Linked DNA regions of Homo sapiens: regions 1, 2 and 4 are each linked to region 3. The links come from fine-mapping of genetic effects on gene expression. A gene starts in region 3. Each other region holds a variant in brackets. All regions are shown on one strand. Distances are between the middles of the regions. Region 1 overlaps CNTN4 (contactin 4). Region 2 overlaps CNTN4 (contactin 4). Region 3 holds the start of CNTN4 (contactin 4). Region 4 overlaps CNTN4 (contactin 4).

Evidence for each region. PIP is the estimated chance that this variant, and not a neighbour inherited with it, causes the effect.
Region 1: its variant is fine-mapped to the expression of CNTN4 in nasal epithelium (TOPMed, PIP above 0.99).
Region 2: its variant is fine-mapped to the expression of CNTN4 in testis (GTEx, PIP 0.95).
Region 4: its variant is fine-mapped to the expression of CNTN4 in testis (GTEx, PIP above 0.99).

The regions. Positions count from the first base shown.
Region 1 is chr3:2,379,585-2,387,694 of GRCh38, forward strand. All of the region lies in intron 3 of CNTN4 (contactin 4), which reads left to right. Among named protein-coding and RNA genes, the nearest start is that of CNTN4-AS2, 240 kb to the left of the region's middle. The variant G/A (reference allele first, on the strand shown) is at 4,836.
Region 2 is chr3:2,888,106-2,896,215 of GRCh38, forward strand. All of the region lies in intron 10 of CNTN4 (contactin 4), which reads left to right. Among named protein-coding and RNA genes, the nearest start is that of CNTN4-AS1, 170 kb to the right of the region's middle. The variant T/C (reference allele first, on the strand shown) is at 4,153.
Region 3 is chr3:2,094,069-2,102,178 of GRCh38, forward strand. It overlaps CNTN4 (contactin 4), which reads left to right and starts at 4,798. Exons shown (of 25, transcript NM_175607.3): 1 at 4,798-4,910; 2 at 6,490-6,571. It overlaps LOC124909338 (a long non-coding RNA gene), which reads right to left and starts at 4,187. Exons shown (of 2, transcript XR_007095785.1): 1 at 4,079-4,187; 2 at 3,513-3,890. RefSeq lists an enhancer at 754-1,361.
Region 4 is chr3:3,052,073-3,060,182 of GRCh38, forward strand. CNTN4 (contactin 4) reads left to right here. Exons shown (of 25, transcript NM_175607.3): 24 at 1,735-1,903; 25 at 4,048-5,887. The coding sequence ends at 4,148. All of the region lies in intron 1 of CNTN4-AS1 (CNTN4 antisense RNA 1), which reads right to left. Among named protein-coding and RNA genes, the nearest start is that of CNTN4-AS1, 5.0 kb to the right of the region's middle. The variant G/C (reference allele first, on the strand shown) is at 4,285.

The sequences.
Region 1 (8,110 bases), 290 kb after region 3:
ATAAAATATGTCAGGGATAGGAGATATCATTTGTTGTTAAAATCTTATTTTTGAAATTAGACTGCAAGAATTTGAATCTGTTGTCATGACTTTTTCAGGCTATTTGATCTTGGGAACATTATATAACCTCTCAAAGTGACAGTTTCCTCATTTGCTTAAACTACTGTGGGTTATAAGAATATCATCATGGCCGGGCGCGGTGGCTCACGCCTGTAATCCTAGCACTTTTGGAGGCCGAGGTGGGCGGATTATCTGAGGTGGGGAGTTCGAGACCAACCTGACAAACATGGAGAAACCCCATCTCTAGGAAAAATACAAAAAAATTAGCTGGGCATGGTGGCACATGCATGTAATCCCAGCTACTCGGGAGGCTGAGACCGGAGAATCGCTTGAACCCAGGAGATGGAGGTTGCGGTGAGCTGAGATCGCACCATTGCATTCCAGCTTGGTCAACAAGAGTGAAACTCCATCTCAAAAAAAAAAAAAAAAAATCATAGGGTTTTGGTGATAATTTAATTAGATACTGTGTCTCTTGGTATAAGCTCTCAATAACTTTGATCATCTGAAATAAAAATGTCATTCTCTTTCCTCTATCCATTGTGTTTTCACAGAAGTTAGGGAAAATGGGATGAGAATTTTCCAAAGCAGCCCTTCCTTTTTATGTAAAATTTAGATATTGGCAGCGTATCTCAGCCTCAATGGTAACATTAGGGTTTGCATCTCTGTTGTTAGTCCAGGAATCTGTTTTTCTCTTTTGATTCTTTAAGTCATTTGGATAAAATATTAAAGAGCACTAAGATCTGATGTTGTAGATTGGAAAGAGGAAATAGTTGAAGAACATGAAATGTGTCTATTTTACCTTTATATAGCTATGCAGAACAGGTGAGATTTGGTATGAATTTGAATAGTAACGATGCTTACCACTCTTGAAGGATATTTTGCAAATTTTAATTGGTTTATCTGAACACCACTTTTAGGGGCTAAGTAAATATTCCCACTTTACACTGAGTAGATCTAACAAAATGATCAGTTTACCCAGGTCATTTACTACATTGACTATTGCCAAATTCAGTATATCCAGATTGGACTTGCTGATCATGCATGCTTAGTGGGTTTCTTTTTTTTTTTTTCCATTCTTATCCTATTTTACATAAGAACGAATAACTTATTCTCTCTAGAGTTTGTAGCTTCATTTGCAAAAGGGGATGCCTAAGAGAGGAAAGAGCAAACTAGGTGTCTTTCTAGCTTCAAAGATTGTTATTTTGTGATTTCTGTATTAGTTGGTTTATAATTGACCAGATCAATTTGAATCATATGTGTTTTTCTATTTTCTGAATTCAACACTGTTATTTTCTATTGTCTTGAGTACTGATGTTTCCAAATTTTTAAACCTTTCCCTTCTTTTGTTTTGTTTTGTTTTTTTCTTCCTTTTTTTTTTGGAGACAGAGTCTTGGTCAGTCGCCCAGGCTGGAGTGCAGTGGCACAATCTCGGCTCACTGCAACCTCTGCCTTCTGGGTTCCCGCCATTCTCCTGCCTCAGCCTCCTGAGTAGCTGGGACTACAGGCGCCCGCCACCACACCCGGCTAATTTTTTTGTATTTTTAGTAGAGATGGGGTTTCACCATGTTAGCCAGGATGGTCTCGATCTCCTGACCTCGTGATCCACCCGCCTCGGCCTCCCAAAGTGCTGGGATTACAGGCGTGAGCCACTGCGCCTGGCCTTGTTTTGTTTTTTCTAGAGAGAAATGGGCCCCAATATTTGCCTTATAATACTTTGTACCTTGTCCTACATTTCCCCCTTAGAACAATGTACAGAACAGTCAACATGACAATCAGATCAAGTTTCACCTTCTGCACTTAGGTCTCTTACTTAGCTATCACTAGTCTGGAGGTGTTGGGAACATAACTTAAACTCTTTGAACTATAGTGTTCTGTAATGTGGCATTAATAAATCTGAAGTCAAAAGATATAAAATATGTAAAAGCGCTTAGGAGAATATCTGGCACATAATGCATGGTAGTTTTTCCCTTCTAAGTCTGTAGGTTAAGATGAATATTTGAAGACTTTCAAACTGATTTTCTTCCAATTAAAATATTTGTAAATGATGTATAAAAAGTCTCCATTCTTTAACAAAGGCTGTTAAAGGCTCTGGTACTGTTTTGATTATATAAATTAAAAAATTATGTATTTCTTATAAAATATTGCATATTTTAAAAATGTTTTTAGCTCATTGAAAATATTCAGAAAACATATATTTTAATATCTTAGCCAAGAATTTGAAATTTTTCTATGAAGGTGCAAGGTTCTAAGACCAAATTGTCTCTGTAGAGCTGTGTAAAATTAAAAAAATAAAATTTCGAACTGGCAAGAAAATGTATTGTTCTTCCCAAATCTTGAGACAAAGGCACAAACCCTGTTTCATTCACACACAAAAAATAATTTTGATTTGCTTAGGGACATAAGATTTATGGCTCTGTGATGTCTGCTAGAGATATGTTTAAAGTGGACCACTCTATACAGCTTTATATAAAAAACATGGTATACACCTTACTGAACATTCTTTTCTTACATTTTCTTCCTATCGTGATTTTTTTTTTTTTTTTGAGATGGAGTCTTGCTCTGTCACCCAGGCTGGAGTGCAGTGGCGCGATCTCAGCTCACTGCAACCTCTGCCCCCCGGGTTCAAGCGATTCTCCTGCCTCAGCCTCCCGAGTAGCTGGGATTACAGGCGCGCTGTAATTTTTGTACTTTTAGTAGAGACTGGGTTTCACCATCTTGGCCAGGCTGGTCTTGAACTCCTGACCTCATGATCCACCCGCCTCGGCCTCCCAAAGTGCTGGGATTGCAGGCATGAGCCACTGCGTCCGGCCCTATTGTGATTTGTTAGTCTGAGTTTAGATTACTTACACCAGGAGGCATTTTTTAGCCTAAATCTGTAATCAGTTAAACAGGAACACTTTCTAAAAAATTCTAGTTCCTAAAAGGCTTGACTTCTACTTTTATTCTGCTCATTTATGTGACTGGCTATTTGAGTTTGAATTACTGGTACATTAGGAACGAAAATAAGGAATGCTTCCTTTTGCTTCCAGATTAGACAATATACCCTGTTAGGTATGCCAGTGCTGTGAGTTAAACTGAGCTGTAAAGTACAGGAAGGGTAGCATTGTCTGACAGAACTGGAAAATGATGGATTAAAAGTAAGATAAAGGCCAGGCCTGGTGGCTCATGCCTGTAACCCCAGCACTTCGGGAGGCCGAGGCGGGCGGATCACCTGAGGTCAGGAGTTCGAGACCAGCCTGGCCAACATGGTGAAACCCCCATCTCTACTAAAAATACAAAAATTAGCTGGGCATGGTGGCAGGCGCCTGTAATTCCAGCTACTGGGGAGGCTGAGGCAGGAGAATTGCTTGAACTCGGGAGGCGGAGGTTGCAGTGAGCCGAGATTGTGCCACTGCACTCCAGCCTGGGTGACAACAGCGAAAATCCATCTCAAAAAAAAAAAAAAGTAAGATAAATAGCTTCATTGACAATTGAGGACCTTAATATGTCTGACATTAATTTTAAAAGTCCAAGGAGGCAATATATTATGTAGTATTTCCCAGACTTATATGAGCATATAACTTAACTCACAGAATAATGATAATCTTATCCAATTACCTATCCAGCATGTGAATCCTTTTTATAATACGCTTGCCTTATATTTATCCAACCTCTGTTTAAATATCTACAGTAATGAGTAACCATTTATAGTGATGATGATGATGATGAAAGTGAGAATGATAATGGCTAAGTAGTGCTTTCTTCCTTTATACTTTCTATGCACAGTTTTAACTGCCTTAATCTTCCCACAACCCTTTGAAGTACGTACTATTTATTTTTTCCATTTCACGGTTGAGAAAATTGAGGCCTGGAGGGATTAGGTAAATTGTCCCAGGTAACACAGCACAAATGGGTCTGGGTCCTAGGGAATCTTGTCAAGAATCCATAAATGTAACGACAGCACTATTTTCTCTCTCTCTCCTTCTGCTCCCTCTCCCTCTCTCCCCCTCTCCCTCTCCGCCACTCTCTCTTCCCCCATTTCCCTTTGCCTCCCTTCCTCTCCCTATCCTTCCCTTTCTTTCCCTCCCTCTCCTTCTTCTGTCTCTCCCTCTTCTCTCTTCTCCCTCTCCTCTCTTCTCCCTCTCCTCTCCCTTCCCTCTCCCTTTCTTTCCTCTCTTCTCCCTCTGTCTCCCTCTCCTCTCTCCCTATCTCACTCCATATATATATAAATTCTGTATACAGTTACTCCTTGACTTGTGTTCTAATAAACCCATTGTAAAGCCACAAAATTATAAGTCAAACCATTAAGTTGGAGACCTTCTGTGTATGTATATATCACAACCATTTGATACCTATGACTGACTGTAATAACTATAATTAAAAATGTATTCACATCTCTAATTCACCCTTGAAAAAATTATATTCTCTGAAGTTGGCTTTTCTGCTGGGAGAATAAGATTAGGGCCTACTTTATACGGTTGTTGGGTGAATCAAATAAGCTAATGAATTGAGCTTACAGCATGTAGCCGTGTGCATCATAAGGACTCAGTAACCTTTAATTGCTATCATTATTATTAACATCATTAATATGTTGTTGTACAGGAACAAGCCTAAACGTAGGCCCTGGTGTACTGATGGACCTGCTTAAGTTCACTACTTCTGAGCACCTGGAGGGCAAATGCTATGAATCCTGGCTTAAGTTGCTTTAGTCTAGCCGTGGCATGCTTCCACCAAAGTTCTCATCTTACCATCTTACCTCTTCCAAAGTCGCCTAATTACTCGCAGCACATAAATCC[G/A]CCTGTTAGATTAAATTGTGGGGAAAAAGCAAGGGAAACTGCTTAGATTTAATGTTAGAGAATGCCAAGAAGAGACATATTTATTATGCTTATTTTAATGGTTTTCTAACACAATAGATTGGGAAATCATGAGTTTGTCAAAAACAAATCTTAAGTCATGGTGAATTGCAAATGCCCAGCTAAATCAGGACTTAAAATTACTCCCTTTGTGGAAATCTCTTTTTCTTCTATGACACCTGAATAGGACTCTCACATCTCCCATGCTCTTAGCCCAGCTATTCAGGCAGCTCTCACATGTAAATTTGTCCCTGGCTCCTACACCAGTAACAACTCAATGTGTGCGTGTGTGTGTGTGTGTGTGTGTGTGTGTTCATGTTACCTCTACATTATATCCTTGGTTTCTAAGTAGAAGGACTAATTTTTACCTATCTTTTTTTAACCTATTTTTGCAGATTTTTCTTTTTTGTTAGTGCACTGCCTTAAGCAATATTCTTTTTTAAAACATTGGTTTCATATAGCCCCTTCTACAGTGGTTGACGTTCAAACTCATTTGGCTTGAAAGTCATTGTTGGTTTTACTGCCTCCATTCAGATCCTCCTTTTCTCTCTTGCTTCGCCTCTTACTCTTCCTTCCTAACTGGTCTATTCTGGTATTACCCAGAACAAATAAATTACATTGCTGATATCAGAGTGACCTGTTAAAAGTATAAACATATCATTTTCTACTTTAAACCATAATCCATAACTCATATCAACAAGGTTAATCCCAAACTCTTTTTAAAAATAATCTGTCTACTACTCAACTTTCTACTCAGTTTTTTATTTTTTATTTTTATTTCTACACTTTTTATTTCTACAGTAATATCAAATCACTTAAAACTCTCCCAACAAACAATACCTGTTTATAGTTTTGTTTATATTACTCTTGTTGCACTGAATAACCTATTAGCATACTTAAGGCAGAGTCTTTGTCCTTTTCTCCACTATTACCTGAGCAATATTCCTGGTGTCTTGTTCATAGCAGATGCTTGTATTAGTTTCTTAGGACTGCCACAGCAAAGTACCATACACAGGGTGACTTAAAATGACAGAAGTTTATTCTCTCACACTTCTAGAGGCCAGAAGTCCAAAATCAGGTGTTGGTAGGGCTGTGCTCCGTCTGTAACCTCTAGGGGAGGGTCGCATCTCTCAGCTTCTGTTAGCCCCAGTTGTTCTGCAGCTTGTGGGAGCATAACTCCAAGCTCATCTCTCATCCTCCATCTTCACATGCTGCATTCCCTGTATGCCTGTGTGTTCAAATTTTTTCCTCTTCTCATAAGGACATAAGTCTTATTGGATATGACCTATCCTAATGAACTCATCTTAACTTGGTTACATTTGCAAAGACCCTGCTTCCAAATAAGGTCACATTCACACGTACCAGGGGTCAAGACTTCAACACATCTTTTTAGCGACACAATTCAACCCATAACAATGTTCCATCAATATTTGATAAATGAATGAATACATGCATTCTCACTCAGCAGTCGCTCCCGAGAATCCTTCTTTTTATGTTCAGAAGAGAGGTTATCACCCCACCTTCATTTTATAGGAATTACGTCTTACTATACCTTGCACACACTACTTATTAATTTTCATGTCACAGTATATTTGTTCATATATCTATGACATTGGTTAGATTAGGAATTCCTCAAGTAAGGGCCTATATATTATTTATCTTCATATCTCATTGCCTTACATGGTTCCCAGAAGGGAAAAATGAGTGCTTATTGAACTCAAACATTCTCTGAATTCAAACTCTGAATTCAAACATTTGCTTGAATTCTGACTGGATTATTTTCCTTCCCCACCTCAAAATTGCATTGCTGTCTGCTTGACCTTTGTGTGACAGTAGAATGGCCAGGTGGTAAAGTTGCAGTATTGAGACATACAACCCATAGTTTTTCTGTCTGGGCCTGTTTTACTGTAATCACTTCAGACAACAAAGAATGCTTTCCCCATCTGGGGCCAGTTCCCCTAACTAGCAAAATCCTAGAATGCCAATAGCTGGGTTTCTTGGAATTAGTTTAAATCATTGTTTGCAATATGTGTTTACATTGCATTGAAAATATTTGTTGGAAAAGATGTTTTCATTTTTAGCAGTCATTTTTGGAGACGTTTATGTAAGAGAAGCAAATATCACATGTTTGAAGCTAGAAAATTTCTAAGGAGTACATGAAAATTGCAAAGCAATTTCTGTTTGTAGCTTTTAGATTTAAAAAGTGATGGCTAAGGGCACATTTTCCTCTTTAGAAACGAAAGGGAAACATTTCAACGAATTATTAAGTATTACATAAGTCTTTTAAAATTATTTGAGATGAGTTATAACTGAAACATATACATAGGGTAGTTAGTGATAAATTGAGAAATGCAAAAATTTAATTGAGCATTGGAGATAATTATTGCAGATATTTGAGATAAGATGTAGCTGCAACTAAGCGCATTCAATTTAGAGATTATAGAAATCATGCATGTGGCAAACCCGTGAACCTCTGTTTCTCTCCATCTGTTGGCTTTGCATCTTTACTTCAGGAAGACTACCTAAAGGGAAGAAATAGAAGTTAGAGTTTTGAACTTGCTAACCATAAGTCGTGTGACTTCCAATATCAGTTATAGTCTACTATAGTAATAAATAAATATTCATTTTGTGTGTCATCTGGAATTACTCAAATTTATAAAACTTATCTGATAGTAAATATACAATAATTTAAATGAATGAAATATTGAAAAATATCTAAAGTTACTTAGATGTGACACAGTCTATTTTGCTGTATATCTCTTAAAAATGCTTTTGGTAATGCAAGGGTTCTTTACAAAGTATTGTCTTTGTGAAGCAGTTGGCAAATCACTTATTAAATATTTAACCTGATGAGTTAGTTTTATTATTCTTAAGGCAAATCTTTATTAAGAGTAAAAAGAACATTTAAAAAATAAGTGTACAGCACTTGCTACTACTGTGAATTTATTTTTTATCAAAAGAAGTATGATTTTGTATTATTTTGTTTTGACTATGATGTTACATAATAATGGCATCCTTCTTCATTTATGCAGTTGGCTTTTTTATTGTTTAAGAAATTTGTTTATATTACTATTTGGTTACTTAATACATAGAAGAATATTTAATAATAGAGACATTTGAAAAATATAAAAATTATAAGGAATATAATGATCATAAACCTAAAGATAGCTGGATGAAATTCACTTTGATTTTCATTTCTAAGCTCTTTTCCAAAAAGC
Region 2 (8,110 bases), 790 kb after region 3:
TGATCCCACAAAAGTCTATTTATTTCACTAATTCTTCTTCCAAAGCATTTTGGTTTTAAGATATGACCGAAGTTCTAAGCCCTCCAGTAGACAGAAGGGGACCCCTCTTGGCTAAGGGGGGGCCCAGAGTAACATTGAAAAATGAGTTCTTGGCCATGATGGGAGGGTAATGTCAGACACATCTAGTTATACCTGCTCCCTTGCTAACCGCAATGAGCCTTTCTTCCCTAAGGGCTAAACACAATCTAGCCCTTTGAAAAGACTCCATCACTGACATCAACCATGCACCTGATGCTGCCCCTTATTTTTTGCCTGATAAGAGACCACCAACACAGAATGGTTCTGTCATTCTAGGGAGGATGTGCCGTGAGGGGTTTCATGTCCTCTGGTCTACCTTTTGACATCACAGGGCCAAAACCTCCACCCTCAGATGCTAATACTGCCATTTTTCATACCCGGAACCCATGAAGGGTTGCACATGCAGATGGTTCTCCTTTCATAAATATCCATGACTCCTCCTGTAGCTTATTAAATATGTATATTCATATTTATATACATATGAATATGTATATAAATTCATGGCTTCTGTGTATGAAATATACATATATTCATATTTATATACATATTTATGTACATATGAAAATATGTATATTTCATACACAGAACCCATGAAACTCAGTTGCACATGCACATGTTTCTTCTTTCATAAATATCCATGATTCCTCCTGTAGCTTATTAAATATGTATATTCGGCCATTCCACTCAGCACAAATTCCTGTTTGTTCCCTTTGCTCCTCCTTGGAAGTGCCTGTTTACAGCTTCTGGCCAAGGGAGGCTACGCTTCCTAGCCTGTCAGAATGGCCACCAGGCAGACTAATAAAGCTCTCCCTTCCAAAAAGAAAGAAAGAAATGGAAGGAAGGGAGGGAGGGAGGGAAAGGGAAAAAGGAAGGAAGGAAGGAATAAAAGAAAAAGCTATGGCCAAAGAATTCTGATCGATAATCACGTAACATTTTTTAAATCTTGATTGGAAACTGGGCAGAGATTTCCACTATGAGCCAGCCTTCAATGACCTCCCCTAAGTGACTCTCAGCATTTCATTTTGGACTCACGTTCCCCTGATGCAGCTTCTGAGGGGAGAGAACACACAGAGTTGTAGAAAGTATTAATACTTCACTTGATGAGCTGGGCAGTAGCTGTTTGAATACATCTGCACTTCTCTTTTATCATTCGTCTGTCTTCAAGAATATTAAAGGACTGACTCTCCTCATGCCAGATGACAGACTTGATATTTAATCTTTGCTTTCCTCTTAAACTGTCATAGTTGGTATCTTAGTTGATGGGTTGTAAAGCAAAAGACACCACAGTTAACTGACTGCAAAATCATGAGACTGTAAATTACAGATTTATTCAGTGAGATGCTATGGCTGTGTATTTTTAACTGTGTAGGGCTCGTTTTTCTCACCAATGTAATAATTATTTTTTCTATATCAGATAGGAACAATCTGTAAATATTCAGATAATTGGCCAACATTTTCTCTTTTTTCTTGGTTGAATAGTCTCTTCAGTTCAGTGGTGGCTGTTCCTAAATGTTATTTGAGTAGCTTAACTAATTGAATAAAGTCATTTTAACTTTCATGATTTTCTGTTAACTGAAATTCCTGCTCTCAGTATGTTAAACTGGTATGAAATTTTCTGCAACCAGGGGTCGGCATACTGCTTTCCTGTGGGTTAGAGGTTTCCTGCACTGGAAATACAGTACTCCAGGATTACTGTTATGGAAAATCAACTTTGTCACTGGCTCCCAGCCCTGTGCAGGGAAATGTTTTTTTCAGGGATCCTGCCCTGGAGATGAAAATCAGGTTCTAACAATGTTTCCTTTTTAAATGGAGTTATCTGCAGCCATGCATGGGAAAAAGAGCAGAATAAAATAAAATTTGCCTGCTTTCTGAAGATAACTCAGCCTTAGCTCACTTGTCAGCCACGCTTGGTGTTAAAAACTTGTCAGATCAGTTGACTTCCACAGCACTTGGCTATTGCATTTATGTTTATTCTTTTGTTTTTCCTCATCTAGCACATCAGTGACAAAAATTATCTAATTGTTTTCATTGTCACAGCCACAGGAGAGCTTAATTATACATAAGCACTTGGCTGTCATCTTTTTTCCTCTCACTTTTTTCTGGTCTGGGTCTTCCCAGTGCTGTGTTCCTAATATCCAGCTGCATAGGTCTCCAATTTAAATGAATTATGATAATTAAAATCACCATGTAGATGATAAAAGGTGAGAAAGTACCCCAGTCACTTATCCATGAACATTCTGTCTTTGTTGACAAGAATTTCTTACAACCTAGGAATTATAAACCATGGGTTTGAGCTTAGAAACCTGCTTCTTTGGGTTCCAGGTTGTTTATTGCATTCATCAGCTCTCCACTTCAGCAACCAGAAGTGTGCTAACTCCTATTCAGGGTTGGCAAAATGGCAATTTTTTTCCTTCTTGCATTAAAACCATTTTGCATTAAAACCATTTTGCCTTCTTTCAAAAGCCTACTAGGCATGATGATTGTTCCCAGTGTCTGAATAATGGAAGCCCTATTGCCCTTTGGTTTGTCCCTACTGTAGCCATGTCTTTAAGTTACCCTGTGCTACTCATGTTTGGTATGTATGAAGAACTGAAGCAAGTTCAGAGATAGAACATTTTTACCCTACCCCATCTTCCCAATTTGTTTTTGCTATAACCTGTACGGTCTAGTTGAATCTACTTTTCTCAGTCTGTTTTTGGCATTAAAAACTTCCTAAAAATAGATTTATTTTCAGTGGTAAAATGCTATGGATCTCTGTTACTAAAGATAAACATTTTCCAAAATGACTTTAATACATTATTTACTTGTTTAACAAATTTTTTTTTATTGCCTACCATGTGGGAGACATTATCAGGCACTATGGCTGCAAGACAAAATCCCTGCCCTCAAGGACCTAATATTTTACTGGAAGTTAACCAAAATGCACTATTAAGCAAATAAATTAACTAGGAAATTTTATTTTTTGGTAAGAGTGATAAAGAAAATAATGAGGTTGATTGGCCAGGTGCAGTGGCTTATGCCTGTAATCCCAGCACTTTGGGAGGCCGAAGTGGGTGAGTCACTTGAGGCCAGGAATTCGAAACCAGCTCCGTCTCTACTAAAATATAAAAATTAGCTGGGTGTGGTGGTGGTGCATGCCGGTAGTCCCAACTACACGGGAGGCTGAGGCAGGAGAATCACTTGAACCCAGGAGGCGGAGGTTCCAGTGAGCCGAGGTTGTGCCACTGCACTCCAGCCTGGGCAACAGAGCAAGACTCCATCTCAAATAAATAAATAAATAAATAATTTGATATGATAGAAAGTAGCTGAGAGCAAGAGAAAGATTTCATAAGATGAAGTAGTCAGGAAAGACTTGTCTGGGAATTGCCCTCTGACCCAAAACCTAAAGGATGAAAATGAGCTAGGCTTTCAAGGGGAAGTGCATTGCTGGCAGAAGGTGAGGAAGTGCAAAGACTCTGAGGCAGAAAACTACTTGACTTTCTTGATATGCAGCAGGGAAGTCAGTGTTAACTAAATCATAGTGAGCAAGGGGCAAAGGTTTGAAACTTGGGAAGGTGACAGACTGCAGTACTTTGTAAGCCAGGCACAGAGTTTGGGTTTTATTCTCTGAGTAAAATGGGAAGCCATTACAGCATTTCAAGGCAGGAGGGTGACTCGATTTGATTAATGTTTTGAAAAGACCGCTCAGGTTGTTTTGTGGTGAATGGATGATTGGAAACCAAGAGCAAAAGCCGGACCATTGCCAATATCCAGGTGAGAGACATTGTTGGTTAGGACGTAAGAGAGGAAGAGAAATGGAGAGACTTGAGATATATTTTGGAGTTAGAGCCAATAGGATATGCTCATTTCATTCCTACATCTGTCTAGTTTATAGATATGGAAATTGAGTCCCAAAGAGATTAAAGTAATTGATTTAAGTTTATACAGTAAAAAACAGAGCTAGATTTCGAATGCTTTGCTAGAGGTTCTGAAACTTCAGTGTGCATCACAATCACTTGGAAGTCTTATTACAACACAGAATTCTGGGTCTCGTTCTATGTTCCCAGTGGGAACATACCAGATGGAGGCTTTGAT[T/C]TGGTAAGTCCAGGGTAGAACCAAGCATTTGCATTTCTAGTAAGTTCCCAAGTAATGCTGATGCTGCTTGTCTGGGAACCACATAGTGAGAATGCTCTATGTTTAGGTTGTCCACCCATGGTATTGTGAAGCTGAAGATTAAATGACATGCAAGAGAAGGTGTTCCTGCTACTCTGGAAAGCTAACAGCTTACTGTCACATCAGGCATTTTAGCCAGTCTACACAAAGTAGAATGAGAGCGCTAAGGCAATTATCTTTGAAGAAAGGAAAGGGAAATATAAAATGTATTTAATTCACTTGGTAATTATTCATCTTTGCACTTCATTCTGTCTCTGTAGTCACTTCCTTTTTGCCCAAAAAGACTGATAGAATTATAGTCATCATTTAGTAGAATGAAGTGTGAACTACAAGAGCCTGATATTTAATATCTTTGTACAGTTTCTTCTCTTTGTAACAGGTGTTATGAGAGTTAAACCATCTTCATAATTAGGAAATGGGGAATCTAATATTTGAGCAGTAAACAAGGCTGTATTTCACAGAATCCAGTAATACTTAAGCTGGAAGCAACTGCTGGGGCCAACCCTTTGATTTTTATAATTAAGGAAAATAAGATCCAGAGATACAAAATAACTTATTCAAGGTAATGCAGTGAATGGGAATCACAGCTAGAACTGCTTTTTTCTGCTATTCTACCTGTGTTACTTTTCCTGCCAATACAACATTTTAATACAATAGGTAAGGTGAAAAAAATCCATCAATCATCCGGATACTCTTTCTTGCGTTTTCCATTACCAGTGTCACAAATGAAAACATCTGGATGAACAACTGACTTTTTCACTTTCTATTTTCTAAGTTGGTCACCTGGTTATTGAGTCCAAAAAAACCCTTTTTTTCTTCTTCAAATTACATGTAAGACTAAATGTCTAGAGCCTTTGTGCTACAGTCCTTTGCCTCTAAAGGCAAAACTGTAGGCTTGATGACACTGCAAATGGTGTTTGAGTATCTCTAAGGTCATCAATAAATGAATACTTAAGCATCTTACAGCAGAGCATACTAATTCCCCATGGATGTGCTATGTATATGTGATCACAAGATAATATTCAGCCCTGCAAAGAAGCTTAAAGGACAGAGTAACCAAAGACTGAACACAGTACATAAGGTAATTTCACAGTAGGGCAATAGTTTGCTTAATTGTCCTAGACAGAACTGATATTGATACCCTCAATTCCCCTGTCACTTAAGATAAAGTCAACAATTTTTGTTTCTTTCTTTCATCTGATAGTTCCAATAAAGTATGTTGCTACAGTTTTTAAGGGGTACGCATTAAGCAAACGTTGCGAATAATAGAGAGAATTAATACAGGAGTGGAGGCATAAAGTCCTCACCTAATAAGAAACGTTAAGCCATGAAAAAAAGAGTCATATCAAGGACAATATATTGAAATGCAATTCAAGTCATCTCACTCTATAGTCCCAGAGAAGGCAAAATGTCACAGTTACATTTTTTTATTCACCAATGAATATTGTTTAAATTTACTTATAGGAGGTTTTGCTTAAGTTGATTCATTTATCTAGAAGTTCCTCTGCTTGTCTAAGCAGGAGGGCTCAAACTGTTGGTTTAAGGACTCCTTTTTACCCTGAAAAATTATTGGATACCTCAAAGAGCCTTTGTTTATGTGAGTTATATCTACCCATATATGCCATATAATTAATTTAAATGGAGAATTTAACTTAGAACTTAATTTACTTTAAAATAACAAAAATACAACCAGTATATGTTAGAAATAATTAACATAAGAAAACTGACTATATTTTTCCAAATAAAAATATTTAATGAAAAGAGTAGCTTGGTTTATATTTTTGCAAATCTCTGTAATGTCTGTCTTACTAGAATAAAAGTGCATTCTCCTATATACTTCTGTATTCAGTCTGTCATGATATTTTGTTTTGATTGAAGTATATGAAGAAAATATGGTCTGACACATATATAATTGGAAAGAGAGGACATAATGGACTCTCTTAAGGAAACCTGGGGACCTACAATGGTTCTTAGATTGCACTTTAAGAAGGATACATTCAAAAGAATGCTACCATTGTCATTTGTGTTAGGGTTGGACATTTTTTGAGAGGCTCTGGACAGAGAATGGATGTTGGAGCCAAGCAGGCCTGTGTACCATTGCTAACTGAGCTACTTTCTGAATCTGGATGTTAATGTCTCTGGGCCTTACCTATAAAATGAGTACAAGTCTACTTAACCTGAATATTATTATGAGGTTTAGAAATGATGTGCATAAAGTGAAGCTGATTAGATATTCCATATATTAGTAGTTTCCATTATTGGTTGCATTTGGGACTGAACTCAAGGTGTATAAGGGAAAGAGAAGGGGATGGATTCAGCTGAGTAAGAGCAGATTGAGGGAAACACTAGGTAGAGGCTTTGAAGATTAAAAAAATAAAAGAAAGAAATATAGAGAAATGAATCTGTGTAAGGTTAGAGTCATAGCTTGATTGATCTGGGTATAACTGAGTAAATCGGGCCCAACAGCCTTTTTGAAAATCCACATATTGCTGATTTACAATGTTTTTATTCTATAACTCATTTATAAAGTTCTGAACTGACTTATTGGAGTGGAGGACAAAGACCCTTATTCACCAAGAGCTGTGAATTCAATGGGCATAGTTGGACAGAAAGTAAGAGATGTAGGTAAAATCAGATGGCAGAAGACTTCATTTTCATTTATGTATTTGTTAATTTATTTTCGAGACAGGGTCTTGCTCTGTCCCCCATGCTGGAGTACAGTGGTACGATCTCAGCTCACCGTGATTCTCGCGCCTCAGCCTCCTGAGTAGCTGGGACTACAGACAGGCACCACCATGCCCGGCTAATTTTTGTATTTTTAGGAAAGATGAGGTTTCACCATGTTGGCCAGGCTGGTTTCAAACTCCTGACCTCAGATGATCCACCTGCCTCGGCCTCCCAAAGTGCTGGGATTACAGGCATGAGCCACCACACCTGGTCAGATGGCAGAAGACTTTCAATATTAACCTAAAGATATGAAATAATGATAATGTTCTCCTAATTTTCATAACATTTACAGGAGGCAGAGCACATTCAGAAATCTTACTTGTTATCTCGCATACAGATTACTTCCTACAGTTATATTTGCTTTATGTATTCATGAATACCTATTAATAGAAATATGCCAGCTTTGAGTTGCCTTCTAGTGTATCTTCATATAGTTGGTTTTTATATCTGAACTTGAGTTTATCCTTGCTATCCGTGCTATCTGTAAAAGGATTGGCCTATGGGAGATGCCATCTCCCATACCATTGCCAGAAGCAAGTCAGTTGTAACTTATGTGGAGATGAAGAAGCCATAAATAAGAGTGTGTGAATGAAGTACAAATTAACAGAAAAACTAGGAGAACTATGAATCCTGTTGGTTTAAGAGACAATCTAAAGGCTAAAGGTTTCACTTATTAAAATCAAAAGGAGGGGCTGGGCGCAGTGGCTCACGCCTGTCATCCCAGCACTTTGGGAGGCCGAGGCGGGCGGATCACAAGGTCAGGAGATCGAGACCATCCTGGCTAACAGGGTGAAACCCCGTCTCTACTAAAAATACAAAAATTAGCCGAGCGTGGTGGCGGGCGCCTGTGGTCCCAGCTACTCGGGAGGCTGAGGCAGGAGAATGGCGTGAACCCAGAAGGCAGAGTTTGCAGCGAGCCAAGATGGCGCCACCGCACTCTGGTCTGGGCGACAGAGCCAGACTCTGTCTCAAAAAAAATAAATAAATAAAAATCAAATCAAATCAAATGAAAAGGAGTGTTAGACATCATTAGGTCCAAACGAATCTGAATTCAAGGAGAAAACAGGCTTCCAATCCCCAGACTGCATTTCCAAAGCCGTTCTTATAATACAAGATATCAGCCAGTATCAGCAAAGTATGTGTATGTTTCTCA
Region 3 (8,110 bases):
GATAGAGAAAAGTTCAGGACACATTGAATATGAAGAAACTGATATTAAAAACATGAACAAAATGAAAATATTTAAGAAAATATGTAATTACAGTTATGTGAATACAATGTAAATTGTTTAGGATAAGATGAAAAGATAAATGATTTGATGAATTCTGTATAAATTGAATGTCTCTAAATTGAATCGCATACCATATGGGCGGATGTGGCCGTTTAAAGGAGACATTTGGTACAGTTGACCCTCATTATTCACAGATAACATATTTGTGAATTTGCCCACTTACTGAAATTTACTTATAACTCCAAAGTCAATACTTAAGGCACTTGAGTAGACACTTGTAGACGCACAGAGGTATTTGTAGATGCACAGAGAATAAAAATTGTAGTTGCCCAATGCACACATTCCCAGCTTAGATCAAACAAAGTGATGCTCTGTGTTCTTGTTTCAGCTCTCATATTCTAAAAAAGTCTCCTTTTTGCAGTATATTTAGTGCATGTTTCTCAAATTTTGGGTTTTTCTGTTGGTGATTTTGCTGCTTAAAATGGCCTCGAGCACAGTGCTGGAGTGCTGTCTAGCATTCCTAAGCAAAAGAAAGCTGTGATGTGCCTCACAGAGAAAATACATGTGTTAGATAAGTTTTGTTCAGGCAAGAATTACAGTGCTGCAGGCCATGAGTTCTATGTTAATGAATCAACAGTATATATTAAAGAAGGTATCTTTATCAGTTGATGAAAATCTTGTTACCAGAGGCTGTCAGGAACATAACCCTTTATTGTCTCCAGTGTTTGCAGTGACTTTATAGAACATAATTACTGAGGACATCAGAAATCAACTATAAATACTTTTGCAACTAATAGACCTTTGGAACAATTATTTTTGGATTTTGTATAAAGAATCCAAAAAAATCTGGAAAACGTGTGGCTAAGAAAACAGTTGATTGGTCCCTAATTCCACCTTATTATGTTTAAATTCAGTGGGTGTCTCACAGCCACGTTTATAAAGGAATCTTGGCTGGGGTGTCAGGTTTCTAGTTTACTTTGACTCTATCTGTCAGTCTGTGTCCAACCTTCATGGCAATTAACTGTGCTTTTGTGTGCTAATTATCATTATCCCAGTATGGGCCCATTATTAGTCCAATGTCCTTAGTTTAAAGCTTAAGTGTCAATCAGTCACCTAAAACAATTGCATAGAAGGAAGCTTTGCAAGGCTGGTTTGAAAGTCCTTAGCTGAGTTCTACTTTATTATACTCCAGTTCGAAACTGAACACAAAGCTCTTCTTGATACAATTGTTTATTTAAATACTGATTTATCTACTTAATTAAAGCAAACTTGAGTTTATATTTTAAAATCAGGGATGGGATAATTGCTACTTTATGCTTGAAGATCTATTCAGGTAGCTATACATTAAACAAGTAAAACCGTAATTATAAAACCTGCACATTTTTATCTGATTGAGTCGCTCCTGCCATTGAACGACCTTATTCAAGTCATTTAGAACAAAGAAAGGTGGCATATATGAGTTTTTTAAAATCCCACTGGATGCCAGGAGTAAGGAGAAAATAGCATCAAATCAGATGTGGTCAGAAAAGAGGTATTTCTTTTCCTGTGATGCTTTTCCTCTTTCCTCCTCTTACAGTAAATCCCCACTTATCAAATCTTCAGATGTGTAGAGAAGGAATAAGGCAGGGGTAATGGGGGAGTGGGACAGAGAGATGCCCTTTCTGGAGTTTGCACAACGGTTGCATGCTGAGTAAAACCTGATGATGTATTCCATTCATGTCTCCAAAAAGTCAAAAGCGGTTTCAGCGTTGATTTCCCTTAAGAGTTATCAGTCCTCATTCAATTGGTTTAATGAGTGTAAGAGGTGACCTTGTGTCTATGTAGATACTCCCATATTAAAAGACCTGGATGTAAAACTTCACATATGTGTAAATAGTTATTTTGGAGGGTGTTGTGAGGGTTATTGCAGCTCTCTGCTCAGCTGCTACTCAGGCTAAACGGGCAGGAGAAATTTTCCACTGTGTTAGAATGATGATTATTTGCAAATTACATGAGCACCAGTAATTCATTCATGCAATGATACAGAGCTGGGTCTCAGTGCAGTGGTATTGAACTTGCTGCTGGGGGCGTTAATTGATTCGTTTGGAACATTCCCCTCCAGAGAATCCCAATCACAGGTCCCCTGATCAAGAAACGGACACGCAGTCGGGGTCCTGGATATGTAGAGACACACGTGTGAGGCTGTTGTCATCAAAATAAACCATTTCTGTCCCCTGACAGGGGTTGAGTCTATTAGGAACACTCCCCAATCCTGGGAGCTTCCGCAAGAGGCTTTCTATCTTGGCAGAGGTGGCAGCTGAGCATCGCTTCTTTGCTGCAGGATGGAAAAAAGGGACTGGATTATTGGCTGCATTTTAAACTAGCTGCTGTTCTAGAGAAAATGTTGGGGAGGGACTGAACAAGCTTAGCACTGGATCAGTGTGGGGGTGTGTTGGTGAAAAGAAAAAATGCCTCCTCCTAACTTAACGTTTAACTGATATCCCCTCAACACGACCCAAATCTGTCTCTCCAGATACACAATGTCTGTTTTCCTAACTACATGGTGAACTGTGGAGCAAGTCTTGGTCATGTTTAGTTTGTTTCCCAGAATCTACTAGAAGACAATGCCTAGCATATAGCAGGCACAGAATAAGGGCCAAAGGGGAGAATGGAAACAAAATATGTACATTTGAAATTTAGAAACACAGTTAAGGGACTTTGCCTGAAATTGTCATAAAACTTTGAAAATTGCTTCAATGTATAGTCCCAGTGGGAGAATGTGACAGCATATTTTATTCTTTGTTCTTTTCTGAAATTCTGTGTCCAGTCTAAAACACGACATTTCCCTTTAATGTGTTAGGAGTATGCATGACTACACAGGAATATTTTCTGGAGAACTTCTGGTGAAGCATATTTTGATAAACAGTCTTACTAAAAGTTATATATATGTACTTTTAATTGACTAGTTGCAGAGAAATAATCAATGTAAAAAAAAATCATACATAGTACAGGTAGTAAAAGTCACAGTTCCGGCAGAAGCACAAAAGCCTTCAAAGTGAGTGGGAACCTGGGAACCATTGATCCTCAGTGGCTGTTTACCATGGAAAACACCTGCATCACCAACATTCCAGTTTTGCAAAAGTACCTCTATTACAGACACATACCAGGCAAGGAGGGAGGAAAAAGCCTGAAAATTTCTCTCCAAGTTTAAGTAATCAGGAAACTTTGGTGGGGAGGTTGGGGTGGGGTGGGGGCGGGGGGGTAACTTCTTTATTTAGCATTAATCTCAGCAATCATGAAAGTCATGGAATTTCAAGTGATGAAAAATTTGACCACAACAATACCTATCACTAGCCTGGTTTTGCCCACTTCTCGAACAGGAATTATAAAGATAATAATTAATTCTAAAAAGCAGAAGACAAAACAAACAAACCAAACCAACACTGAATGAACTAATAAGGCTGCTGCATATATATGTTGGAGTTGGATGTTTATTTGCTTACTGCAGTAGTTTAAAAATAGTTTTCCAGTTAACATCTTTTCCACATAGTGGAGATGTCAGGGTAGGTTTACATGATTGCGTAAATGGTCAGAAGTTGTTTATGTAGCTCTGAACTGCTGAGAGATGAGCAGGAAGACCTGGGTTCAGCAAAACCCTTGGGGCTTTTTCCCAGAGAGAGAAACAGAGGCTCCTCTCTGGGTTGCTGGAATGCTTTCCAGACGAATTCGACTGGGTTGGCTTTTCTCTGCCTGTCAAAGTCACTTTGCACAGTGCTGGTGAGGGGCTGGGGCATTGCTGCCAATCTCTACGGTTACCCCGAGGTGTGGAGTTGCGGCGAAGGGAGCCACTTCTGCAAGGAAACAGTAGATTCATAATGTAGAATGACCGTGGCAACGTCGTTCAAAGCACATTCTTTCGAATAACAAGGCTTTCGACATGCCCCACCCCCGCGCACAACACACCACAAATTGATCCTTGTACCTAATTTACAGCAACTGTTCCCTCTGACCTCCCCCCGCCCCCGCCCCACATTCCAACCTGAAAGCACTTTGCGTGGATGAGACTTCAGGTGTGTAACGCAGCCTGTCCAGCCAGTGTCCTCCGCCTAAGGACAGGCAGGTAAAAACCTACCAAAGCCCCCTCTTCTGGCCTAAGTTCAATGCCACCCGCCCACCCACATTCCCCGGTTCAGCAATTTTCAGCCCAGACGCAGAAGCATCTGTTTCCCTGGCCAGGGCGCCTTAACGATCCCCCGAATTCCGCGTCTCCCGGAGGCCAGAGGTTTGGGTACCCAGGAAGGTCGCGCCTCCTCGTGCCCCGATACTCGGGTTGTAAAGGGAGGAGACATCGCCTCGGCGCATCCCTGGCCGCTGAACAACGCAACCCCTACGTCCCCGCACGGGAATCCGGCTGATAATCTCCTCTTGCCTGAGAATCGGGCCAGGCGCCCTTTACTAATTTCGCGCGCTGGGGACCTGGGGCTGCCGCCTCTCGGCCGCGCGGGGCAGGTGCTGCGTCCCCAGCGCTCGCCTCCTCCGGCCGCGCACTGAGCATGCGCGGGCTCCGGGCCTCCGGCGCGTCTCCCCGTCCCCGCTCGTCTCCCGCCCGTTCCCACCCGCCCGCGCCTCTCCCCTTCCCCGAGCGTCTCCCCCGCCCCGCGGCTAAGGAGCCGGCAGCCCGAACTCCGGCGCGCCAGGTTTTTCCAGCCGCCGCGAGCGCCGGGAGGGAGGGCAGCGCCGCGCCAGACGGAGCCCGGGGTTCGACGCCAGGATTGGCTGCAAGTAGGGAGCTTTCGCCGCCGCCCCGGGCCCCTCGGACTGTGCCGGCGCCGCACCCGAGGCTCTCGCCAGCCCGGCGCCCCGGTGCTGAGGTAAGTGAGGCGGCAGCTGTGCGGGTCCGGCTCCTGCGTGGGCGCGCGATGCCCCGGGGACGCGGTCGCGGGTGTGGGGGGGAAAGGGCAGGGTCCGCGCGGGTTGCCCGAAGGACAGGGGCGCTTCCCGGGGCTCTGACTCCCGCGGGGCCGGGCAGCGTCTGCGGGGCCGTCCAGCTCAGAGCCCGGAAGCCCTGCAGGGTCGGGGAGCGGGAGCTGAACGCCTGAGCGCGGAGGACTCAGGGCCCCGACGACGCCACCGTCACCCCACAGCGACCCTTCTTCTCCTTCTCAGCCGGAAAATAAGTTTGTTGCGCTGCGAGGCAGCCACAAAACAAGGAACCGAGAGCCCGGAATGCTGCGGGAAGCCTTCAAGTCAGCTCCTCCGACTGGTTCGGGCTACTGCCCCCTCTCCGTGCGCCCTGGCCTCTGGCGCCGGGTTCCCGGCGGGGCTTTTCTTCTGACAGCCCAGTCACAGCCCGCAGCAGAGGGACGCGAACCTGGGGAGTGGAGGGACCTGGGACTAAAGGAACAGGAGCCCGTAGCCGTGGTGGAAGGAGCCGCGTGGAGACGGAGGCTGATGTCTGTGGCGCCCGCTGGGTGCCGGGCTGGCTGCTGAGCGCTGAGGCTGCGGCGGCGAGCGACAGGCCAGGTGCCTGCTCTTAGGGAAGGTACCTGGCTTCCCCAGTCTCTGCCGCGGGAGCCTGTTGGGTGGCATTCGTTTCCAGCAACTTCTGGGGGGTTTCCAGTTTCTTTCGAGAGGCAAGACAACCGCCCCGTCCCCTCCCCGGGCCCAGACGGCGGCGAACTGTGCGCCGGGCGCCCCACAGACCCCAATCCACTCACTCTCCTTCTGGAACGCGGGGCTCAAAATCTTCGTGCATTTTCTCTCTTGTGCTTCGTGTATATGTTTTACTATTTATGAAGGGTGTGGAGGTGAGGGTAGGAGGACGTGGGCTCCTGAATCCCTCTGAACCAGCCAGAGAGTCGGCTGCATGGAAACATTTCGCAGCGAAGCTCCTGCGAGGAGGCGGCTTCGCGCGTCGGGAAGATCAGGCGGTTGCTTGCTGGCCAGGGTCTGCAGATTCGGTGCGAAGAAGCTGGCGGAGGTTGTGTAGGGCGAGTCAGTGTGACTGAGCACCCTGGGTGTGTGGTCTGCGTGGAGGAGAGTGGGCCGGATCTTGAGGTGTGTTGGAGGTTTATTTGTAAGAGGAGTTCCTGAAAGGAATGTCGTGGAACTTTTTCTAGTTTTCCTGCTGGAATCAACATAGGGGCGGGCACATGTTTGTCAGAATAACAGTGGCATTTAACTGCATGGGAAGCTCTTTCAATTTTCTGTAGTGGGAGCTGGATAGTTCAAGGAGTAACTCCACATAACTGAGTCGTTTGGATACCCACACAAGATAATTTGGAACGCGCTTGTATTTTTTTGTTTTTTGAGATTTCTGGTTTATGTCCTTTAGAGAGTGGGGTAGGAGCGTAAAGACTGTATAGGTTGCCTATGAGCAGGTCCATACAATAGCGTTCCCAAGTCTGCCTAATAGCAAGTTTGTTCTCTCTTTCTCTCTCTCTACCCAAGTGGGTGAAAAAGAACAGTGTGTCATGAAGACAGGCACCTGGAGGTGATTTGGGTGGCATTCATGAGAAAATTCACGTTACCCGTAAGTTTATTCTTGCTATTTTTATCTTGATTTCTTTAAAGATTTTGTGGGAATATCTGCAGTGGGTCGCAGGAGTAGGTAAGATTGCTAAGGATCAAAAACAAGTTTCATGAGAATATTATTTTTGCTACCTTATAAAATAGCTATTGATTTGTTTGTTGAAGCTGGTTTCAACTGCTCTGTCTTGTTGAGGAGAGATGATGCTGATAAACGTCATTATTTTTCCATCTGAACCCTGGGAGGTAGCTGGCAAGGATGGAAAAACTGACCTTTTCAATTAAAGACTAAGAGTCTAAGAGAAGTGACTTGGATAAGGGTGCATGTCAGAGCCACATGTAAGTTTCAACAGAGGTAGATTTTCCTATTTGCAGTTTTTTAAACAACACTTTTCAGTTTCTTTGAGTTGTAAAACTTTTCAAGTCAATTGGGAGTCAATGCAGTACCTTTTTCCATGGTCATTTCATATTGGCAGGTAATTAAGAGTGATTAGAGAACAAACCTTTCAAATGATGTTGGATTTTTTATCATTCACTTATTTTACCTACTTCTCTCTCCTTTTTGTTCAAAAGTAGGTCTTCTGATTTCTTTTCCGATCTAAGCACTAAATCTTTTGGCTGCAGTTTTTCTTCTGAAATGTATACAGGGCATCCGTTCCTTCAATTTAGGTCTTAAAAAAATAAAGCTGCTCAGCAGAAAATTCCCATGCATGGTACTGACTTTTCTACAAGTTTGTCTGATCATGATTTTAACTTGTTGTTTCTTCTTTGTTATATTTGAGGACAGACATAATATGCATTAGCTTCAATCTCTCTTATCTTAAAAATTAATATTTTGTAAAAACTTGCTTTTATATTATTTTAGTTGAATAAGTCTATTTCATATGATAGGCAGGGGGAAGTCTCTACACACTGATTTTTTTTGTTCCTTTTTGTTCATTTTTCCCTGTAATGCTATGTTTTAAGCCTAGTGAAGGAGGCAAGGAGGCAGGATTTACTGCCTAGATTTATTGATCTTCATTATTATTATTATTTACTATCAGAAGAAATCTGACAACATATCAATAAAATTTATTTATAAACTGAAGACATGCTGTTATATGATACACTACTTATAAAACACACAAAGAAACAAAAAAGATGAATAAAGCAAAAATTATGAAATAGAAGGTCTCATGTTGCTGTTATGTATCCCGGTGGATCATTTTGTACAGCCCCTGGGGTGTGTAGCACACTTTAAAGATCACTGCTGGTTTGATATTTTTAAAATCTTTCTCTCCTTATCTCTGCTCTGCTGTTCATCATCTCTGATACTCTAGCCAGTTGTAAAACTGCTACACTTCTATATCTTCTGTAACAAATAGATTAAGCACACTTGTTTTCCTCTCATGGACTCATATGTGGATAGAATGAGGTGTAAAGGATGAATGTGTTTTGGAGATGTCATCTTAGATCTCCCAAAGTAGACATACAGGTGAATTTTAAAAAATGGAGTTTTAGTTTAAAGACTAAGTACCAATGGTCAGGAAGTGAAGAATCCAAG
Region 4 (8,110 bases), 960 kb after region 3:
GCTTGAATTTGAGAACTACGCGTCTAATTCATCTAATCATGATGCCTATCCCATATTAACATCTCCTGATGATCTTTTAGAAAACAACTACAGCATGGATCCCACCTCTGTGCAGTCTTAGGCAGGCTAGAGTGGAACTGGAGCGGGGTTACTGACCTCCTCACAGTCAACACTTTGAGCTAGAGAGTTCTTTGTTGCGGGGCTGCTCTGTGCATTGTAGACTGTTCAGCAGCATCCCTGGTCTCTCTATCCACTACAACAGGAGGACATGTTTTGACAAACATGTCTGCAGACATTGCCAGATACCTCCCTGTGAGGCAAAATTGCTCCCCTGCCCCTCCCACCCTGTTGAAAACCACTGAGCTACAGCATAAGTATTTTACAAGCACCCCAATGGTTCTAACATGCAGCCAGGACCAAAAACCACTGACCTCATCCAACCCTATCTTTTTGTCAGGGGAAACTACAGAGGATGAGCTTTAGTGGTTCTATAGGTAAAGGCACACTTTCCCAGACCTGTATATTTTGTTCCTGATTGGAGTAAATCCAATCACAGCAGGCAATCCCAGGTAAGTGAATGTGTTTTTAGGAGGCTAGTTGGCCACCTCATCAAATGAATCCACCTCCAAACTCAGAACCCATGGGGGGCCCAAGATGAAAACAGGACTGTTGCAAGCTGCAGATATGTCCAGGGTGACAATGGTTGCCTCTTGGCTACCTAGCCCCATAAAGTGGGGTTCCAGAGGAAAGGAATGGGAGGTTACTACTCTTGCCTTTCCGATATCTTCTCCCTGTGCTGAAATGTCCTGTCTCTAAGAGTCGTGATCATAACTTATTGTGCCTGGCTTGTGCTCTAACCTTTGCCATGTATGTTCTCTGATTATCTTTAAGCCTTCAGAGATACTATTTCTTACATGCTTCCTCTAAGCTAGGCCATCACCAGATTCAAACCTTGTGCAATCTTTTGTATTTTTATATTTTTGAGACAGTCTTGCTCTGTCACCCAGGCTGGAGTGCAGTGGCTTGATCTCGGCTCACTGCAACGTCTGCCTCCCGGGTGCAAGCAATTCTCCTGCCTCAGCCTCTGGAGTAGCTGGGATTACAGGTGTGTGCCATCATGTCTGGCTAATTTTTGTATTTTTTGTAGAGACAGGGTTTCGCCATGTTGGTCAGGCTGGTCTCAAACTCCTGGCCTCAAGTGAGTCACCCACCTTGGCCTCCCAAAGTGCTGACACTATAGGCATGGGCCACTGCACCCAGCCTCCTTGTGCAATCTTGAAAACACACTCCAGAAGACTGGGTATTATTGTCCCCCTTTTACAGATGACTGAAGTGAGGCTCTGAAAGGTGAAGTGGCCTGTGATCCCACAGTGGCCAAGTTTATTCTGATGCCAAAGCACCGATGTGTAACTGAGCACTGTACATCCTTAAGGAGCTACTCATATTTTCCACTTTCCCAAGAGTGTCAACTGAGCCTCCGAGAGGCTAGGCAGTAGGTAGAATCACGTTGCTGATGCCCCTGATATAATATCCTTTCAGCTCTTTCCTTGGAATAAAATGGTAGCTGCAGTCATGGCCCTCACTGCAAATGAGCCTTCCAAATGCAAGTGGGCAGCCAGACAACCTCTACATCCCTGCATTTTGCTCGTGCCCAGAGGTGAAAACAAATGAATGCTCCATATTTGGGACCTTTGTGAAGACGGCAGGTGACACCTGTTCTTTCTGTATTGGCAGGTCTTGTACAGATGGAACAGACAAAGCAGCACATCTGTCATTGAAACAAATAAAACATCGGTGGAGCTTTCTTTGCCTTTCGATGAAGATTATATAATAGAAATTAAGCCATTCAGCGACGGAGGAGATGGCAGCAGCAGTGAACAAATTCGAATTCCAAAGATATCAAGTGAGAATGCCTTTTTTTCTCCCTTTTCTCCTGCCTGTCTTATCTTATCAGCCTTCCAGATGAGTCAGGGCTTGAAAGACATTCAGCCTGCAAAAGCAGACTTAAAATAGAAATGGAGAACACTACCCCCCTTCTCCAGATGTTTGCTGGCCATAGGCAGTTTCATGCAAAAATCAGTTTGCCCGTGTTGACTGATCTACTCAGTTGCTAATCAAAAATCAGATTAAAGCAGACCCGAATTAGTCACTAAGGTTTTTCCGTGTCAACCTGTGTAGTTTGCATTGCATCTATTGTAGCCCCAGAATTACAGTTTAGAAAGTGAAAAGCATTGACTCAGTCAGAAGGAACAAGGACAAGCATTGTTAAGTATGCCGTAGCAGTTTTTCTCCAGTGAAACAGTGTATGCAGTTCAGTATCTTGGAAATATTTGGAATTTACTACTTATTTTCAATGGGTATATGCAACATGTGCATCAATGTGTATGTCTCTCTATAGTCAAGATTATCTTCACTTTCAAATGTTGTTGAATAGCATGGGAGAATAGCATATTCTTTTTGAGCAAATACATTCAATTCTGTTTTTACAAATACCATGTTTGTAAGTATCTTAAGAGCATGATTTTTTTGTTGTTGTGTGTGATCTCATTTATTTAAAGAAAAAAAACAAAATAGCCAAATCCGTGGAGACAGAAGTGAGGCTAGTGATTGGCAGTGGCTGGTCAGTGGGGAATGGGGGTTTAGGCACTGGGTCTTCATTTGGGGTGACACAAAAGTTATGGAGCTTGAGAGTGGTGCTGGTTGCACAACACTGGAGTATACTTAGTACCACTGATTTGTACATTTTAAATGAGTTAAAATGCTAATTTTGTTATGTGTATTTTACAGCAATAAAAAAAAGACTGTGGTTAGATATCTAAGTGTAGACTTTCACAGGCTTTCAGATTTCAGTCTGGAGATTAGGGGAGCAGTGAAGGCTGGAGGTATAAATTTTCAAGACATTGGTAAAAAGATGATATTTTAAATTATGGACAAAATCCTCACCACCATCCTGACTTTTAGCCATGTGACATCCCTCTGCTAAGGGGTGATATGCCAGTGTTTCTGGATGGAGTTTATATTTACTGCATCTTTTTTGCATACAAACACAAAAGGCATTTTTGTCTTAAAAGGGGGACAATTGGATTATACTTTATCAAACAAAGCCTCTAACTTCTATCGAAAGGGAGCTAGATTTTTGGTGAGATGTGGAAGTAAAATCTCCAGGCCACAAAAATACAAGATTGGGGCTTATCTCGCTTCATTAAAAATCTGACTTTATACTTCATACTTTCTTATCATTGCAGGGATTGACATTTTTAGATAGACTGATGATTCCTGGTTTTATTCATTACAAAAACATATATTAAGCAATTATATTGGTGTAATTATTAGATAACAAGGAAGTGACTGTGAACCAAACATGATCTGTTTCAAGAGATTTTTCATCATGTTGGTCAAAGAGACCTTACAAGATTGAAGAACCCCCGAATGACAGTTGATAGCTTCTTACTATGAAAAGTGTAAGACCCATAAGAAAATTTAAAAAAGGATTGAGGCTATTTTGTTTGCAGAAAAGGGGTAGATTTAGACAGACATGGGTTTGAACCCCAGTTTAGCCATTTACTAGCTGGGTGATCTTAGATAAGTTACTTTATTTCTCTGGGCGCAAATTACCGCCATCTGTTAAGCGAGGTAATAATAATACCTGGCCTTCATCCAGTTTTTGCAAGATTTAAGTGTCATATTCATCTGTGCCCAGCAGAAAGATAGAGTTCAAAAGGGAGCAGCAATTTTCATTTTGTTGAATCATCGACATAGCATGCTGTTTATCAGTATTGTTACTAGTAATATTGAAGTTTCTTCTCACATTAGATAGGAACCTCCTTACTTTACAAATGCTTTGACAGAGGTACAGGGCTGTCCTATACCCTACTCCCAGGTTTGTAGCTTGGTAGTCATAGAACTGATATTTAAAAGCCATTAAGACCTTGATCATCATTTCCAGTAGAATCCATGCAGTTCTGCTGTTTCAAAAAGCCCCGTGGCCCCTCTTCCCTTTGAAGCCGGGATGGGGCTGTTTTGAGTGAATTTGTTCTCTCTTTTCAGATGCCTACGCGAGAGGATCTGGGGCTTCCACTTCGAATGCATGTACGCTGTCAGCCATCAGTACAATAATGATTTCCCTCACAGCTAGGTCCAGTTTATGACAAAAGTTATCTGAAGGACTTGCTGTTTATAATATAAGCAACATTTAGCTAGTTGTTTTGAAGACACCCAGTACTAAGTAATATTGTTGTTCAAGTACATCTTATTACTGGAATAAAAATGTTTTTTGCTTCTTTA[G/C]GAATGGCATTATACAGTACTTCCTCAAAGCAAATCTAGCTTTGTCTGAAGTTTCTTTGGAAACTCTGCAATGCACTGAAGACATCTGTAATATGATGTTACCAAAGCAGTTTACATATGTCCTTATATGCATATTTTTTATTATATATTTAGTGTTTTATAGAATTTTTTAAAGTTAACATATAATGTAGATATTAATTTTTTCCTCGGCTGTAAAATGCTATGGGCAACACAATCATGCAATTATAATTTGAAAATATTTCCTTTAAAGACAGAGTTTGAAACTCATCTTGGTAAATAAATTGCAAATTACTCGTACAGTTTTACAAGGATCTCATGGCAGAACAGCGGAAGACTTGGTCCGTAACTCAAGGCTGTTGTATGCAAACTACTCTTCTAGTGGTTAATGCACTTGACATGTACAGTATGTTTCCCATGCCGTTGTGATTTTGACATGTACAGTATGTTTTCATGCCGTTGTGAATTTTGTTGTTCAACCCAACTTGAGATGGTTTCAGGAATGGCTGCAATCTCAAAAGCTCAATGTACTGCCCAAGAGGCACCTTGTGCAATATTCCCATCCCTGAATTTAGCATTGTACAGGAAGATTTTCTTTTCACTCAACTGAGTTAGCATTGTCTTTGTGGTAGCATTATCTTAGACATTAAATTTGAAGTAACATATATCCTGTAGTAACATAGACCCAAAGTTACTATAGTCAACCAAGTCTTTCAAAGGATAAAAGATCATTTTATTATCTTTAACTGTATCTATTTTGAATGTAAATTTAAAAAAAGTAATTCTCTGTCAATGGATTCGTAATTTCTTTACAAAATTTCTTATATATAATATGTGTATCTCTGTAATAATAGAGCCCTTCTTTTGAATCAAAATTACATATGGACTTTGGAAGATTGCTCCTATTTCAACAAATAGTTGCTGCAAGAATTTTTAATATGACTCTATAAAAGCTCTTTAGTACAATTGTATGGTTTCTTGATGATTCTGTTTTGCAATAGGTAGCCTAGTTGCTTTATATGCTTTACCTTCTAGGTCTTAAAATCACACATTGGAAAATGACAATATCAACAAAACTGTATTCTTATGAAAAGAACTATTTGTTACAATGAGAAAGGTTTTGTGAGTAAACCCTACTGGACAGTGACATAAAAGGCAATGGAATTTTCTATAAACATTTTCTCATGTAAACATGCTGCCACCTTTTCTTCTTTCTCAGAGAACTCAAATTTGCTATAGTTTGTCATTTTTGCTTACAAATAATATAACTTTTCAACCTTCTAGTTATATTTATCCAATAAAGTCATAATCGGGATTCCATTTGTGTAAAAACTAGGGTGGTAACCGGAAAAAAATATTGTCAGTATTTCAAGCTGTGTTCCTTTCTTAGTTTGATATGGTTACTTCTATGTTGAAATAAAATTTAAAATCACATGCAAAAAAAAAATCAGCAAAATAATAAAATGAACGAAAAAAAATGACACCCAGGGAGTTCCCAACCCCAGTGTAAATGATATTTACCAGTGATCTAGCATATGTAATCTTTTTTAAAGGTATTGTTAATAAATATTCTGTCATTTGTAAAGATACTTGTCTTTCGGGAGCATTTTTCCTGCCTGCCTGTCAGGGAATTTGTTAGCTTACCTTTGTGCTAGTTATAATTTGGGATCATAGAGGGACTCAAAAGTCTCTACCCAAATCTAGATGACCCAGAGCTTTTCCTTTGGAATTGACAACCCTGAAGCACCATTTCAAATCCTCTTTGGAAGTAGAGAGGGTCCTAATCCACAAGTAAATGTCCTGAAGATGAGACTTGAATATTTTCTCTTGATTAGCTAAGTCTTTTGTATATTTACTGTAAGTATATCTGTTGTTTCCCTCACCCCCCATTGCTAAAAGGGTAAGTTCTAAGCTTGAGCATTTAAGGCTCTTTTTTTTTTGAGACGGAGTCTCACTCTTGTCACCCAGGCTGGAGTGCAATGTTGCGATCTCGGCTCACTGCAACCTCCGCCTCCCAGGTTCAAGCAATTCTCCTGCCTCAGCCTCCCGAGGCGCCCACCACTACACCGGACTAATTTTTGGATTTTTAGTAGAGACGAGATTTCACCATGTTAGTCAGGCTGGTCTCAAACACCTGACCTCAGGTGATCTGCCCGCCTCGGCCTCCCACAGTGCTGGGATTACAGGCTTGAGCCACCGCACCCGGCCCTTAAGGCCCTTTTTAATCCAAAACGATTTAACTGTGTATCCAGCCACAGTAAGCCCTCCCTGACCCCTGAACACTGCTTGCTTTTGGTCTCACCTCTGTGCCTTTGGTCTTATGGCTGCCCCTTCCTGAAATGCCTTCTCCACCCTTCTCTCCCATTCAGATCCCTGCTGTCCTAGGGTAGCTCCAGCCCCAGTTTGTCTGCAAAGACTTCCCATGCTTCAGTCCTTTATGACATTCTCGCTTGGAAGTAGTTGCATCCCCTATCAATGCTGCTCATTTAGTAATTAATCAGATACTACTTTTGGAAATCTCTTGTACTGTTATCTTGCATTTTAATTTAACTCCTGTATTGTTACTTACTTTTTCTTGTATGTATGGCTTGTCTTCCCAACTAGATTGTAAGCTCCTTGAGGGCAGGGACTTTGGTCTTATCTTCCATGTACTCTCCATAGTGCCTAGCACAGTGCCTTGCAATAAATACTCACTGATTAATTGAATGAAGGGGTCTTTGAAGTAGCATTTTGCATCAGTTGCCTGCCTGTGTGCCACAGCAAACCAACCAGGGAAGACTGTGTCATTACTTTCGTTATGTGCTGAAAAGCGTTAAAAGGCCTGGCTTCTAACTTTGTACCTGGAAGAAGTCTTTGACCAATTGGCTTCATCATCGGGTAAATGAGGTCCTGGATTAGTTGAGTCTAACTGAATTGAAGATGTTTTAGAAAGTGCCCCATGAGCACCTCCACCCAAACTTGTCTCATTTGTTGGCTTTCATGGTTGCCTCAGGTAGGGTCCACTGGCTGTAAGCAAAGAAACGACCCTGGGTAACTTGAGCAAACAAAAAGTAAGGAATTAGAATGACACAGGTTACATCATATGAGCCAAGGAAACACTGAAGGACCAACTCTTGAGGAGAATAAGAACCAGGCCACTCTGTGGGTCCAGACAATGGGAACTTTGGAAAGTCTTTTTGGGGTGCTATTGTGGGGATGAATCAGCTTTGTTTCCAATTTTGACGCCATTATGCTCAATATTCAGATTCCTGGGAAAGTGATCAGTTCCATTTGAGTTCCACAGCCAGAGTACCTTGTACTCACAGGGGAGGGATAGTTAAAGGAAAACTAAGATGCTGTTTTCCAAAGGTAAGAGAAGAAATGCTGGGTTGGTATAAGTAACAGATTTTCTAGGCTTAGCCAGCCAAGGGGACTTTCTTAGGCCCTTAGCCCAAGTAATACACTCGAGTGGAATGACTATATTGCTGCTTGAGATTTTTTTCTGAAGGAGGACCACTAGGAAAATTTGCTTTGCTTGTTTAACCTTTCAAAGTGCTTACTCTTGCCCTCCTTTTTGTGTGTGTAGTCCACTTGTGATTTAACTGTATGAAAGGAAATTCTATTGTGCCAGATATTTGGATTCTCTCAGTGTACCTACTTTCTATGGAGCCCACACATGCTACATACAAAGCAGCACCTTTCCATGGGCACAGAAGACATGGATGATAAGCTTCATTTCTCAGGTAAGCTCTGAATTCTTCCAGCCTGTGAGGTAGAAGGTGCATAGACTTTGATATTAAGAAAGAATGATTGTGTTATTCCCACCATC